Homo sapiens: one gene and its partners. The protein of the gene in region 1 purifies or fractionates together with the protein of each later gene. This does not show direct contact. Each region holds a gene or a part of one and is shown in the gene's direction. Other genes may lie near its edges.

Region 1 (3,500 bases):
CTTGTTAATTCTGTTTAAGTTTTATAGCTAAGTGAATTTTAAGTGAGTTCTAGACATTTATTGTAAATTATGTGATAGCACATTATTTTTTATTTTATATTCTCGATTTTTGTTTTATGACTTTAACTAAATTTCCAGTATTTAAAAGGTTTTAGATTTTCTAGCTTCTCATTTTTTTGTATGTTTTTCTTTCATAGTATGAAATTAATCTTTTGGAGCTGATCCAGAGAAGAAGAACAGTAAGTAGAAGATTTTCTAGAAGTTGGAGAAAAATACAGAACTAAGCAGTATGGCTGTATAGTTAGGACTTGTGTTTGGGAGACAGTGTTGATAAAACTGTGGTGATATGCCTATAATGGATATTTGTAATTATTTGTTTGCTTCATCAGTACCATTAAGTGGTCAAGTAGGAATGCTGTTTTGGACAAATATGATTAAGTTGAGGCTCTGTTTTTTTATGTCCCCCTTTAGCGCATTGGATATTCATTTAAGAAGGATGAGATTGAGAATTCTATTGTACACCGGGTACAAGGTGTTTTCCAGCGTGCCTCAGCAAAATGGAAAGTGAGTGATCAAGGCATCCTTAACTTTATGAGATGTGAAGATAAGTATTATACATATTGTATTAGGGATTCAAATGCAGTTTTCTATTTTTATCTTGGGTATCTTTATACTTACTCTAATGATGGTATCATTACTCAAAACATTTTTTGAGCCACTTAACAAACCAGTAAGAAAATTGATCTTATTACCTTATAGTTATTCTATGAGGACAGTGCTGAAAACAGTGTATTTGATACATTACTAAGGATTGGAAATTTGGGAGATATTTGTATATATTTGTAAGTACACTGAAGACTTAGAGCTAGAAAATAAATGGTTATGTAGGGGCAATACCTCAGAAACTTGATTTTTTTTTTTTTCTTTTTTTTTTTTTTTTGAGATAAGGTCTCACTGTGTTGCCCAGACTAGAGTACAGTAGGGTGATCTCGGTTCACTGTAACCTCTGCCTCCCAGGCTCAAATGATTCTCCCACCTCAGCCTCCCCAGTAGCTGGGATCACAGGCGCATGCCACCGTGCCTGGCTAATTTTTGTATTTTTGGTAGACATAGGGTTTCGTCATGTTTTTTAGGCTGGTCTCGAACTCCTGGGCTCAAGTGATCTGCCCACCTCAGCCTCCCAAAGTGCTGGGATTACGGGAGTGTTTGGGATTGGGTATATTATATGAGAAGTATTTTGGATTCTTGGTAATGACAAATTTTATATTGCTACCCCAGATTGAGATTCTTTAAGAACTGCATTAAACCAACTGGATAGATAACAAAGTTTTTTTGGAGCATTGTGAGTGGGAGTTGGGGGAAAGGTTGAATTATCATAGTTAAGAGATCGGAGGCCTTTGTGAGGAAGAGCCAGATAGGATGAGAGGTGACTGGATTTTCTGAAATCTGCTTCTTTTTTTTTTTTTTTTTTTTTGGTGGGGGATGGAGTTTTGCTCTGTTGCCCAGGCTAGAGTGCAGTGGTGTGATCTTGGCTCACTGCAACCTCTGCCTCCCAGATTGAAGCAATTTTCCTGCCTCAGCCTCCCCAGTACCTGGGACTTCAGGCACGCACCACCGCGCCTGGCTAATTTTTGTATTTTTAGTAGACAGGGTTTCACCATCTTGGCCAGGCTGGTCTCAAACTCCTGACCTCAGGTGATCCACCTGCCTCAGCCTCCAAAAGTGCTGGGATTACAGGCCTGAGCCATTGTGCCTGGCTTTTTTTTTTTTTTTTTTTTGAGGTGGAGTCTTGCTCTGTCACCCAGGTTAGAGTGCAGTGGCACACAATCTCGGCAGCTCACTGCAACCTTCGCCTCCTAGGTTCAAGTGATTCTTCTGCCTCAGCCTCCCTAGTAGCTGGGATTACAGGCACATACCACCACACCTGGCTAATTTTTTTTGTTTGTTTTTTTGAGTTGGAGCTTCCCTATGTTGCCCAGGCTGGAGTGCAGTGGCCCGATCTCGGCCTCCCGGCTTCAAGCGATTCTCCTGTCTCAACTTCCTGAGTAGCTGGGATTACAGGGGTCTGCCACCAAGTCCGGCTAATTTTTTTGTATTTTTAGTAGAGACGGGGTTTCACCATATTTGACAGGCTGGTTTTGAACTCCTGACCTCAAGTGATCAATCCGCCTTGGCCTCCCAATAATCTTTGTAATTTTAGGTTAGGTGGGGTTTCACCATGTTGGCCAGGCTGGTTTCAATCTCCTGACCTCAAGTGATCCGCCCGCTTCGGCTTCACAAAGTGGTGGGATTACAGGTGTGAGCCACCGCATCCAACCTGAAATTTGCTTGTTTTTAGCAAAATTAATTAATGCAAAGGTGTATTATATGTAAAGGTCAAATTTGGGCAGCTTACTACATTGCTTTTCTTGCAGGACGATGTTCAACTTTGGCTCTCCTATGTGGCTTTTTGTAAGAAGTGGGTGAGTAAAGCCATGCATGTCTTGCTTCCTCTGACCGTCTTTTTGTTAATCTGCCCTTTAAGCTTCATGCCAGATGTTTTTTCCTGAAGTGTAGGGTTAACATGAAAAAAGAACCCAAGAAGGCGGAACATCAATATAACATTGGATATCTGAATGACTATGGTTTCCAATTCAATTGAAAAGAATATAATTTTTACGTGTGTTTGTTCAATACAGTTGACTTTTTAAAAAGATATTTAAAGTGTTTAGTGGTTTAATTGAGGTAGAAAATTTTGAGGGTCTGTGTTCGTTTATATATCCCTAGCAATAGCATGTCATGCTCCATTGGATTTTACAGTTGGTAAAGTTAGGGTACATATTACTTAGAGAGTAAGATCAATGATTTATCTGTGCAGGAAGTAGAAATATTTTCCTTTTTTACAGGCTACTAAAACTCGACTTAGCAAGGTATTCTCTGCCATGTTGGCGATTCATTCCAACAAACCAGGTATGGTGAAATCTTTGTCAATTTTTCTATGTTTTATTTAGACTCAAGCCATTTTGGATTTTATTTCGATTGATGAATCTAAGAGAAATTATTTTGAGGACTTGAGCTTAGGCAGTTGGCCTCAGCAGTTTTTCTTACTGAATAGCTGCCTCATAGTTCACCCCTGCCTACTATATACTAGTTACTGTCCTAGGTGTTGTATCTGCAGGCAAGAAGGACTGTATTTCTTTTTTTTTTGAGACGGAGTCTCGCTCTGTCGCCCAGGCTGGAGGGCAGTGGTGTGATCTTGGCTCACTGCAACCTCCGCCTCCCAGGTTGAAGCAATTCTCCTGCCTTAGCCTCCTGAGTAGGTGGGATTACAGGTGCCCGCCACCACGCCCAGCTAATTTTTGTATTTTTAGTAGAGACTGGGTTTTACCACGTTGGTCAGGCTGGTCTCTCGAACCCCTGACCTCGTGATCCACCCGCCTTGGCCTTCCAAAGTGCTGGGATTACAGGCGTGAGCCACCACTCCCGGCCAGACTGTATTTCTTTTTAGATGATGGCAAAAT
Region 2 (4,168 bases), on another chromosome or scaffold:
CAGTCACAAATTCTCAAGAGTCTGGTTTAGATGCTCTGTGGCACCTGAAGCAATTATTGGCCTTTGCTCACAAACACAACTCACTTATTTCTCCCTTTTCTCCTGCTTCTTCATCGTTTCTTCCACCCAGGGCTGGTTCCCAGGTGGGATGACGGAAAGGTGAGGAAGCCCTTAGAGCATTTGCCAATGGGAGCCATTCATTTGACTTTAAAGTACTGAGAATTTAGAGGCGTTCTTTTAAATGCATTATTTAAAAAGAAAGGTAACACATTAAGGACTTTGCTGCATCTTTTGATTGGCTTTCTTCTAGGAAGTAGTGACCGAGGTTTCCACTTTCCTCCAAGAGGAAGAGACAGAAGTTTTGGCAAATAGGTCAATGCTGGGAACAGATGCCTGCCTGGCTGAGTGCTGGGAAAGAAAGGCAGTTGGAGGGATGTGTGGGTGCCTGGGAGGGCGTGGGTGGTGCCCAGGAGGCTATGGGAATCAGAATCACACTTGCACAAGAGAAGACCCTTATGGGACAAGTAAAATCAGCATAGTTTCTTGGGCGGGGCAAAGGTGTCCTGATGAGGATGCTAGGGGTCAAATATGTGTCTGGGTTCTGCCCCAATCGGGAATGAGACACAGTACTGAAGTGGAACGGGGGTAGCATCTCCACCCACCTTCACAGCCTCTGGGGAAAAGAAAGCTTTCCTTGCAGCCCAACTCCAGGGGCCTAAATATTGAGCACCAACACAAGACAGGTCCTTGAGCTTCTCGGAGCGAGTCGGGGAAGCAGATAATTTCAGATGCAAAGTGCCTTGAATAAACAGAACGAAAGATAGAGAGCCAGAGGGGGAGAAACGGCTTGGTGTGGTCAGGGCAGGCATCCATGAGACCTAAACGAAGAGGGGGCATTCCAGACAAAAGGAACAGTGATCACAGAGGCCCCGAGTCAGGAACCAGCTAAGGGTCTTAGAGAAGAGCTGCCTCGTAAAGCTAAGCAACAATAACCAGGGAACGGTGGGCATGGGCCCTGATAGACAAGGCAGGTCTTGGCTTTTTAAGCCATAGAATTGGATTTTAGGAGGGATGGGCCCGCCGACAAAGCCAACAAAGTTTTAACCCGAAGATCGCTATCTTATTTATGCTTTAAAAAGACCTCTCTGGCCTTTCTGCGAAGCTCTATCCTTAGCTTTCTCTTGTTAGCATTTTGATTAACGAATGTGGGCACGAACAGCCAGCTGACCGACCGCGCGCGCAGTCGAGCGTCGGTTCCTCGCCTTGGGAGGGACCACTGGAGGCCCCGCCCCCTGGCCGCGAGCGCACCTCGGCCCCGCTCCCGAGGCCCTACGGGCGTGGCCTCTGTCCCGGGTCCCGCCCCCCAGCACTCCGGAACAGCGCGCTCGCAGCGGGAGGTCGCGAAGCCTGGGACTGTGTCTGTCGCCCATGGCCGCCGCGCTGCTCGCCCGGGCCTCGGGCCCTGCCCGCAGAGGTGAGTGCGCTGGGGATCCGTACGGCGGGGCTTCAGCCCGCGTCTGGCCCAGCGGGCGGAGGTCCTGGCGGCCGGCTCTGTCAGAGCCGCTGGCAGGCGGAGCCCCACTCCGGGAGCGCTCACGGCCTTTGCCCCAGTTCTGCTGCTCCTTGCGCCGACCCAGCCCGGCCCTTCAGGCGTCCCTGGTTCCTGCACAGACCCCTACCCCCCGATTGACCCCAGCCACCAGCCCAGTTCCCAGTTCCCATATCTCCCTCCCTTCATTTCACCCCCACTAGAGGTTCAGGGTGCGTCCTTCTTCCGGAGCCAGGCCTGGGATTGAACCAGACCCGCATCTGTGACCTTGGGCAAGACAGCCCCTCCTCAGCCTCGGTTGGCCCATGTGTAAAATGTCCACAGAGAAAATCAGAGTTGTTGGGAGGATTAAATCATAGGGTATGTAAAGCACTTCGTGCCTGGCGTGTAACAGGTGTTCCACAAATGCTCGTTCTTGCTGGTTAATACAGTACCTTTCCCATCTTACGTGTCTCCAGTTGTAGCAGCCGTGACACATATAGCCACGGCTTCCTTTGCCTGGCCTGAATTACAAGGGGAACGCTACTGAGAACTGTGTTAAGCGCTAGTTAGTCTTTCTTTCGCACTCCGAGGAGCGGAATACTATTCGCCTCCACTTGTTATAGAAACGGAGGCTCACTGACGTTTAAAACCCTTGCCTAAGGTCACAGAGCTGAGGTCTTATTACTGTTGGTATTATACTGAGGACTGAAGGATGTAGTGTATGGAAATGTCTAGTGAGTGTACTAAGCATTCAGTTAGTATGGGGTTTTCAGTGGCCGCCATGGACATTTTGGGCTGACAGTTCTTTGTTGTGGGGGCTGTCCTCTGCCTTGTTGGATGTTCAGCAGGGATCCCGGACCCCTATCCACTGGGTACCAATAGTATTCCCCTGCTCTAGTTGTGACAACTAGAACTGGCTCCAGACATTGCCAGATGTCCCTTGGAGGGCAAAATCCTCCCTGGTGAGTTAGTGGGTCACTAGGATTCTTGGAGACCTCCTGCCTCCTCCTTCCACTCACTTCTGCCCTTGCCGGCAGCTCTCTGTCCTAGGGCCTGGCGGCAGTTACACACCATCTACCAGTCTGTGGAACTGCCCGAGACACACCAGATGTTGCTCCAGACATGCCGGGACTTTGCCGAGAAGGAGTTGTTTCCCATTGCAGCCCAGGTGGATAAGGAACATCTCTTCCCAGCGGCTCAGGTGAGAGTGCAACCTCAGCAGCCCACGATAGTGGTCTGCCCTCTGCTACTGGATGAATGGTGGCAGTGACAGTCAGCGGCACTCGGACTCTGGTAGAGGAACCCCAAAGCAGGGCCTGGAACCCAGAAAATGCTCTGGAAGTTTCCCTTGTCCAGCCTGTGGCCAGTAGCCAGGACTTAACTTCTGGGACAACAGTAATATGTGGTGGATGGTCAGTTGCTTACTGTGCCAGCCACTGTGCTCATTCTAAATAGTGCCTTTAGGGTGTTTGGCATGCACTAGGCACTGTTCTTGAGATGGGTTATCTCATCTGTTCCTCACAACGGTCCTGTGAGGTGAAGGTACTATTCTTATTTATTTTTTTGAGACGGAGTTTCACTCTTGTGGCTCAGGCTGGAGTGCAATGGTGCGACCTCGCCTCACTGCAGCCTCTGCCTCCTGAGTTCAAGTGATTCTCCTGCCTCAGCCTCCCAAGTAGCTGGGATTATAGGCGTGCACTGCTCTGCCCCGCTACTTTTGTATTTTTAGTAAAGACGGCGTTTCACCATGTTGGCCAGGCTGGTCTCAAACTCCTGAATTCAGGTGATCTGCCCACCTCGGCCTCCCAAAGTGCTGGGATTACAGGTGTGAGACACCACGCCCGGCCAAAGGTAGTATTATTATATACCCCATGGACTCAGACTTGTGAACAAGTTAAATAACATACCCAAGGTCATGGAGCTCATCAGCGGCAGCCTGCTCGACCTATTTTCTTTTTTATTTACTTATTTTTTTTTGAAATGGACTCTCGCTCTGTTGCCCAGGCTGGAGGGCAGTGGCGCAATCTCAACGCACTGCACCCCTCTGCCTCCTGGGTTCAAGCAATTCTCCTGCCTCGGCCCCCAGTAGCTGGGATTACAGGCGGGCACCACCACGCCCAGCTAGTTTTTGTACTTTCAGTAGAGATGGGGTTTCTCCATGTTGGGCAGGCTGGTCTCAAACTCCTGACCTTAGGCGATCTGCCCGCCTTGGCGTCCCAAAGTGCTGGGATTACAGGCGTGAGCCACCGTGCCCGGCCTGCTTGAACTGTTTTCTCCCCTGAGTTTCCCATCAGCGCGCTCCCTCCCGTGCCACTGTGTTCTTCCATTTGCATTCAGTCTGTCTGCAGCTACGCGTTGAAGATGTTACTGCCGTACACGCTGACCTAAAGATGTCCAGCACCTGGTGTAAACACTCAGTAGTAGATAGTTGTTTAATTAATGATTTGTGAAAAGTCAAACCTCTCCGGCCTCTTCTCCTTGCCTGTTTTTTTTTTTAATTTTAATTTTAATTTATTTTTTATTTTTAAAAATTTTTTGAGACAGTCTTGCTCTGTCACCAGGTTGGAGTGCAGTGGCGCGATCTCGGCTCACTGCAACCTCCGCCTTCTGAGTTCAAACAATTGTTTCCTGCCTCAG
Region 3 (4,073 bases), on another chromosome or scaffold:
AGGGCAACAGCTTTCTCTATGTGGACACACTGGTGATGGATCCCCCGTCCTGCCTGCCTGCCTGCCTATGGTGGCCTATGCTGCCTGCCCCTGGTGAGTCCAGGAGGGGCAATCCAGTGACTGGCAGATCCTTTCTGGGGAGTGTTTCTAGAAGGGACCGTGGGTCTGGACAAGCCATAACAGGAAGTAGCCAAGCTGGGCAAGGGCTTCCCCAGCCCAGGCCTAACTACTGCCCATCGATCCAGGCAGAAGGCGGGGTTAGAGACTGCCCTGGGAGATTGGGGGTCTGGGTCCCCTCTGATGAGAGCTCTGGTCTCTCCCTATAAACACACACTCCTATCACAGACACACACATAACACACATGCACATAAATCCACATCAAGCATGCACACACATCCATCATACACACATACGACACACACATGCACCCCTGCACACACACACTACGCTTACATATACCTTTGTGGGATGTAGAGCCATTCCTCCAGAAGCCCATCCATGTACCCCAGATGAAACCACCCAACACCAATTCTTACCTTGTTACATATGGTGAAATCAAGGCATAGACCGAAGTGCTGTGGTTAAGAGCTGTTACTCTCCGAAGTCAGGCGATCTGGGTACAAATCCTGGCTCTGCCAAACCCCTGCCACGGTGCTTTAGGTAAATGACAGCTCCTTTCTGTGGCTTAGTTTCTCCACCTGTAAAATGAGAATAAGAACAGACTCTGCACTTATGGGGTCAGCCCAGATCTCCTCCTAGGGAGACTGCGAGTGCCTGGGCCTCAGTTTTCTCTTCTGTAAAATGGGGATATTGTGCCCAGTTCGAGCAGAGTGGCTTGAAGAGTCACCTGAGATAGGATGTGAAGTGGCCGCGGTGAGGTGCCCAATACACGTGGCGCGCACTGCTCAGGAAGCTTTCCTTGGAGGGCTGGATCCCGCAAAGGTGTCGAAAAAGGATGAGTCCCGGATATCATTCGCTCAGGTGAGGTGGGTTCGGGTCCCGGCTGCGTCTGGGACCGTGGCCCGGGCCTCAGTTTCCCAGTCTACAGCCCGTGGGAGGACACCTCGGAGCTGGCACCCCGCCCCCAAAAGGGCCCCGCGGCGCAGGGCGTGGGGCTCAGGTGGACACCTGGCGGGCCTCCTGGCGGGGGCGCCCTGGCCGCCCGGGCCCCTCCGGGCTCCTTCCGGGTTGGCAGCGGCGGCGCAGGGGGCGGGGGGCAGCGCAGAGGGGCCGGGCGAGGCCGGGAGCGCGCGCCCCCGCCCCCGCCCGCCCGCCTCCTGCCCGCCCTCCGGCCGCGGAGCTGGAAACCGGGCTCCGCGCGTCCGGGGCGGCTGGCGGCGCGGGCAGGCAGGCGGGGAGGACAGGCTGGGGGCGGCGACCGCGAGGGGCCGCGCGCGGAGGGCGCCTGGTGCAGCATGGGCGGCCCGCGGGCTTGGGCGCTGCTCTGCCTCGGGCTCCTGCTCCCGGGAGGCGGCGCTGCGTGGAGCATCGGGGCAGCTCCGTTCTCCGGACGCAGGTAAGAGCTCCCGGCGCCTTTGCACCCCGCTGGCCGAGGGTCCCGGCGCGCACACGCCCCCACCTCCAGGAAGGGCTGGGATTGGAGGGCGATCCAGTCCCCAGCCCGGGTGAGGGCAGGGACACGGCCATCCCGCGGTCCGGCTGAGGCTCCCGCGAGTGCGGGGTCCCCTACTCCATGTGTCGGAGCTGGCTGCCTCCCCTACTCCCTCCCTTTCAACCCAGGAGCTCGAGAGGAGGGGGAAGGGGCGCAACGAGGGCGAAGCCCTGGCCCTTCTGTTCCCCTGTCCCTAGGGCCCCTCCCCCTGCACTTGGGAAAGGCCTATGACACCCCCTAGCCGACTCTTCTCGGACCCTCTCTCCCCTTTTCCCTGTTCCTGTTTTTTTGCTTTGTTTTGTTTTTTGTTTGTTTGTTTTGTACCCAGGCTATTTATCTCCCTCGGAGGAGGGACTGGGGTGGAGTCTCACAGCCCAGTGGGTCAGTGTCGGAGATACCCCAGGGACCTGGCATTTTGGACAGAGAAAAGAGGGAGCACAGTCTTCCTTCTGCTCTCCTAGCGGCGGGGAACCTCCTCCCTGCTGGCCTTTACGGAGGAGCTCCCAGAACCTGACATGGTGGGGCCCATTATTATATATAGTGTCCTCATCAATCCTTGAAGGACCGAATGAGGTAGGGAAAACTGTCCCCATTCAACGGTTAAGCAAACTGAGACCCTAGGGAATTGGCATCATCTTTTAGCCTCATGGGCTATTCACTGAAGAGCTAGGTTGCAAATCTGCCCTTCTATCCTTGATGACAGTGTTTGAACCTGTCCTGGCCTCTGTCCTGGCTGCAGCCCCAGCGAGGGTCCCCTCCTAAAGGCCAGCCGCCGTTGTCCAAGGCAGACAATGTGGAGTAGCCAGGCCTCTCCAGGCCTTTTCATCCCATTCAAAGGCCTGCGCGGCCCCCACCCCCTACGGCCTCAATTCTTTAATTCTTTTCAGAAATTCTCCTTTCCCAGTGGTCAGGGGCCAGCATGCCCCTGCTGGGCTAGCAAGAGCAGTTGACATGGGCAGGGCTGGAGGACGGAGGTGGTTGAAGCATCAGAGGCCAGAAGAGCAGTTGTCTGAGACAGGGGTGGACGTGTGGCAGATGTTACAGCCACCACCTATTGTGTGCAGACAACAGTTAGCCTGAGTCGGCTCCGTTACCTGCATTCATCAGCTCCAGAATCCTCCCAGCTGCTTGGAGGTATGCTCTTTATGATTCTGTTTCATAGAGGAGGAAGATGAGGCTCAGAGAGGGAACATGACCTGCCCAGAGCATGGAAGTGAGCCGCCAGGATCCCAGATGCTAAGAGGACAGAGACTATGAACTCAGAAATCCCACTGTTAGGCTCAGGATGATGGTGGCGACAGCTTAAGGCCCAGACCGCCCTGCAGCCAGTTCAAGGCAGGGCTTCCCAGCCTGGGCTCCTCACCTCCCAGGGTCTCCTGGGTGGGAACAGGATGATGGCTATAACCAGGTATCTGGTGGTCACTGGGGACTGTCACTCCATGTGTTGACAGAAGCCTATCACAGTAGCCTGAGCATCCCAAAAACCCTGTGGGCAACACTATTGCACCCATTGTACAGATACGGAGGCTGAGGCCTACAGAGGACAAGTGGCACCTCAGTCCAGACCAGTCGATTTCCAAATCCAGTGGCTTTTTCTCTCCAGCAGCCTTGCTGGAAGAGGGAAAGAGGTTGTCGGCTTGGGGGCACCAGGAAAGGTTTGCAGTCATGATTAGGAGTTAGGGGCTCCAGCCTTGGACAGAATGGAGACAGAATTCCTTGCTCTTACAGGCTTGATGTGTGACCTCAAGTGGGTCACTTCCTGGCCATGGGTCTCAGTTTTGCTCTCAGTTTCCTTCTTTCCTCGTGGGAAGGACCAGCACCGGGCCTCACCTGCAGTGGTTCCTGCTATCAATCATGTCACATGGGGGTAGGGACCTGGAGCTTGAGGAGTCTGTGGGCTACCAGAACCTCCACTTGTGGCCCCATCCCCACGTTGCTGGAGACAGCATGGGGGTGTCATGCCCTGTCAGCCTTCCTGCCACCCACACCCCAGCACCCCAGGCACCCCTTGGCAGCCAAGGGACCAGACGCAGAAAAGAGGCTTTGTCCTGGGGAGGGGGTGGCCTGGGAAGGCATCCAGGGGGCCGCCCCTTGCCCCAGGAAGGTGGTGACACTTGGAGACCCCCGGAACCAGGGTGCCCAAGGGCTATGCAGAGCTGCCTTGGCTTGCCCCTGCCCCTGGGGCTGCTTCCTGCCCCGCTGAGGTCCTTCTAAGCCTGGAGTCTGCTTCCTTTAACCACTCATCTCAGCGTTTCAGCTGAGGGTTCAAGCCTTCACCAGCCCAGATCTCTCGCCCCTGCAGCACCGGCTTCCTTCCGGCAAATCCTAGGATCAGGGAGAATGGAGGGCTCTAAAATGGAGGGGATCTGCCCCAGCCTCTGTCTAGGGGGCTGCAATCCCAGCTGATGCCCACAGGGGTGACCTGGGTAGGTGCTTTCTCTTGGAGCCTGTTTCCCCCTC
Region 4 (3,500 bases), on another chromosome or scaffold:
TCCATAGATATGGAGGGTACCTGTGTGTGCACATGTATAAATATTTCTCCAAGGCCTTTTTTGTGCATTTTCATTTTTAAAAAATTAGCAGTCAGTCGTGGTGGCTCACACCCATAATCCTAGCACTTTGGGAGGCCAAGGCGGGTGGGTCACTTGAGGTCAGGAGTTCAAGACCAGCCTGGCCAACATGGTGAAACCCCGTCTCTACTAAAAATACAAAAAATTAGCCGGGCGCGGTGGCGGGCGCCTGTAGTCCCAGCTACTCGGGAGGCTGAGGCAGGAGAATGGCGTGAACCCGGGAAGCGGAGCTTGCAGTGAGCCGAGATTGCGCCACTGCAGTCCGCAGTCCGGCGTGGGCGACAGAGCGAGACTTCGTCTCAAAAACAAAACAAAACAAAACAAAACAAAACAAAAAAAAACACCAGCAGAGCATGTTGGCTTGTGCTTGTAATCCCAGCTACTTGGGAGGCTGAGGCACGAGAATCACTTGAACCCAGGAGGTGGAGGTTGCAGTGAGCTGAGGTCGTGCCACTGCACTCCAGCCTGGGTGACAGAGTGAGACTCTGTCTCAAAATAAAACAAAATAAAATAAAATTAAATTAAAAATTAGCAAGTACAGTTAAGCAAAGGGGGAAACATCTATAATTTTACACTGTGGAGTACCACTGTCAATATTTTATCGCATATTTGAAAGTCTTACATATTTATACAATGGAGTGTTTCTTTTTAACATATTAGTATCTAGGCATACTGTTTTATAGCATAGTTTTTCAGTTAACAGTAAAAATAAATATACATAAAATAAGAAAATGGTATAATGGTTTGAGAAGGAAAATGAGGCGGGAATGATCAACACTGAGTGGGAAAGGAGTGGCAGGCACTCTGTTTCTGCACTGGGGGTGTGAGGTGGCCCCAGCCCCTCCTCAGCGCTCTGGAGCCCGGAGTCTGAGGGACTTTCTCACTTGGAGACTCACAGGGGTCTTTCTTCTGCAGGTTCTAGATCTCCACGATAATCAGCTGACAGCCCTTCCTGACGATCTGGGGCAGCTGACTGCCCTCCAGGTAAGGCTGCAGAAACAGAAACCCACCTCGGATGGCCTTAGTGAGACCAGGCAGTCACTCAAGCCTGGAATGTTCTGGCCGGGCTCCAGCCAGTGGAAGCAGGCTGCAATCAGTGCCAGCTCCACCCTCCCCTTGGCCCTTTGGGGTTTTTTTTTTTTTTTTTGAGGCAGTGCCTCACTGCGTTGCCCAGGCTGGGGTGCAGTGGCGCCATCAGAGTTGCAGAGGCAACCTCTGCCTCCCGAGTTCAAGCGATTCTCCTGCCTCAGCCTCCCTAGTAGCTGGGATTACAGGTGTGTGCCACCACTCCCAGCTAGTTTTTGTATTTTTAGTAGAGATGGTGTTTCGCCTTGTTGGCCTGACTGGTCTCAAACTCCTGACCTCAAGTTATCCACTCACTTTGGCCTCCCAAAGTGCTGGGATTACAGGTGTGAGCCACCACGCCTGACCAATTGTACCACTTTGAGCCACAATAAATACCTTGGTGTAGGACTTTTTGTATGTGTATTTTTTTTTTCTCACTCTTGTCACCCAGGCTGGAGTGCAGTGGCACCATCTCAACTCACTGCAACATCTGCCTCCCGGGTTCAAGAGATTCTCATGCCTCAGCCTCCTGAGTATCTGGGATTACAGGCACACGCCACCACACCTGGACAATTTTTGTATTTTCAGTAGAGACTTGTTTTCACCATGTTGGCCAGGCTGACCTCAAACTCCTGGCCTCAGGTGATCCACCCGTCTTGGCCTCCCAAAGTGCTGGAATTACAGGCATGAGCCACTGCACCTGGCCAGTAGGTGTATTTTTATAGAATTGCTGCATTCACTAATTTGTAACTTTTGGATACCTGACAATAACTCATAGCATCCTTTGGTTCATCAAATATTCATCTTATTATTTTTAATGGCTACTTAGCTTTCCATTGCATCATTTTTTGTTTGTTTGTATTTTTGAGATAGAGTCTCGCTCTATCACCAGGCTGGAGTGCAGTGGTGTGATCTCGGCTCACTGCAATCTCCACCTCCCGGGTTCAAGCGATTCCCCTGCCTCAGCCTCCTAAGTAGCTGGAATTACAGGCGCCCACCACTATGCCTGGCTAATTTTTTATATTTTAGTAGAGACGGGGTTTCACCATGTTCACCAGGATGGTCTCAATCTCCTGATCTCATGATCCACCCACCTCAGCCTCCCAAAGTGCTGGGATTACAGGTGTTAGCCACCGTGCCTGGCCCCCATTGCATCTATTTTTAATGGTTAGTGTGTCATCCTGCTAGCCTTGCTCACCTCGAGGTACCACCTTCTGGAGGGAGCACAGCTTCGGAATCCAACAAGCCCTGGTTCAGTCCCAGCACCACTGCCGGCCTGAGGCCTTGGGTGGATCACACGGCCTTAGGGCAGCCTTTTCCTTAAGGCCAGGGGAACTAGAGCCTCCTGTGCTGCCTCCCCAGATCCCCAAGTCTGTAGTCCCCTTCTCCCTCCTTCCCTGATGGTGGGGCAGTTACTGAGCATTTTGTGGTCGGTGTAAGTGCTGGAACCTCAGCCAGAAGGGGTTCAAGGCCTGGCTGTGCTCTCCTGAGCACGTGACTTTGCCACCCTGAGCTTCAGTTTTTTTCCTGTCTCCAGCGGAAACAAGAATTTCTGTCTTCCTCAAGGGCCGGTAGGGGGAGATAAGAGCTTGTGTGTGTAGTGCCTGGGTGCCCTGGCCCGGCAGGGCGAGGGGTGCGGGGGTCATCACTGTGGTCTGTGTGTGGGTTCTCGTGTCACCTCTTCCTGTTTCTTTCTTTTTTTTTTTTTTTTTTTTTTTTTTGAGACGGAGTCTCACTCTGTTGCCCAGGCCGGAGTGCAATGGTGCAATCTCAGCTCACCGCAACCTCTGCCTCCTGGGTTCAAGCAATTCTCCTGCCTCAGCCTCCCGAGTAGCTGGGACTACAGGTGTGTGCCACCATGCCCAGCTAATTTTTGTATTTTTAGTAGAGATGGGATTTCACTATGTTGGCCAGGCTGGTCTTGAACTCTTGACCTTGTGATCCACCTGCCTCGGCCTCCCAAAGTGCTGGGATTACAGGCATAAGCCACTGCGCCTGGCTGCCTCTTCCTCTTTCTTAGGTCTTAAACGTGGAAAGGAATCAACTGATGCAGCTCCCACGTTCCATTGGGAACCTGACCCAGCTCCAGACTCTCAATGTTAAAGGTAGGGACCAAGAAGCCGTGTCCGTGTGACCCTCCATCAGCTCTGGGCCATCCTGGCCGGGATCCACAGGCTGCCCCGCCCGGGAGCCATTGAGCAGGAGGGCAGCCAGTCTCCGGGGGTCGCTGTAAATGGACTGACCCCTGCTGGGTCAGCTGTCTTCATGGTAACCAGAGACAGGCTGTCTGGAGGGTTCCTGTGGCTCCTGAGAGCCAGGGCCGTATGGCCGTATGGGGAGGAGGGCAGCTGGGCCCC

Evidence for each region. The genes of interacting proteins can lie anywhere in the genome.
Region 2: the proteins of UTP6 (region 1) and ACADS purify together in Homo sapiens (co-immunoprecipitation; one large-scale study listed by IntAct). This does not show direct contact.
Region 3: the proteins of UTP6 (region 1) and EMID1 purify together in Homo sapiens (co-immunoprecipitation; one large-scale study listed by IntAct). This does not show direct contact.
Region 4: the proteins of UTP6 (region 1) and LRSAM1 purify together in Homo sapiens (affinity purification with mass spectrometry; one large-scale study listed by BioGRID and IntAct). This does not show direct contact.

The regions. Positions count from the first base shown.
Region 1 is NC_000017.11:31,891,709-31,895,208, reverse strand, and holds part of UTP6 (U3 small nucleolar RNA-associated protein 6 homolog), read left to right. Parts: intron 1-197; coding exon 198-239; intron 240-471; coding exon 472-564; intron 565-2,414; coding exon 2,415-2,462; intron 2,463-2,885; coding exon 2,886-2,949; intron 2,950-3,500. UniProt on the Homo sapiens protein: Part of the small subunit (SSU) processome, first precursor of the small eukaryotic ribosomal subunit.
Region 2 is NC_000012.12:120,724,458-120,728,625, forward strand, and holds the start of ACADS (short-chain specific acyl-CoA dehydrogenase, mitochondrial isoform 1 precursor), read left to right. Parts: upstream 1-1,368; 5' UTR 1,369-1,428; coding exon 1,429-1,474; intron 1,475-2,568; coding exon 2,569-2,732; intron 2,733-4,168. UniProt on the Homo sapiens protein: Short-chain specific acyl-CoA dehydrogenase is one of the acyl-CoA dehydrogenases that catalyze the first step of mitochondrial fatty acid beta-oxidation, an aerobic process breaking down fatty acids into acetyl-CoA and allowing the production of energy from fats.
Region 3 is NC_000022.11:29,204,623-29,208,695, forward strand, and holds the start of EMID1 (EMI domain-containing protein 1 isoform 1 precursor), read left to right. Parts: upstream 1-1,273; 5' UTR 1,274-1,416; coding exon 1,417-1,517; intron 1,518-4,073.
Region 4 is NC_000009.12:127,458,010-127,461,509, forward strand, and holds part of LRSAM1 (E3 ubiquitin-protein ligase LRSAM1), read left to right. Parts: intron 1-993; coding exon 994-1,062; intron 1,063-3,163; coding exon 3,164-3,248; intron 3,249-3,500.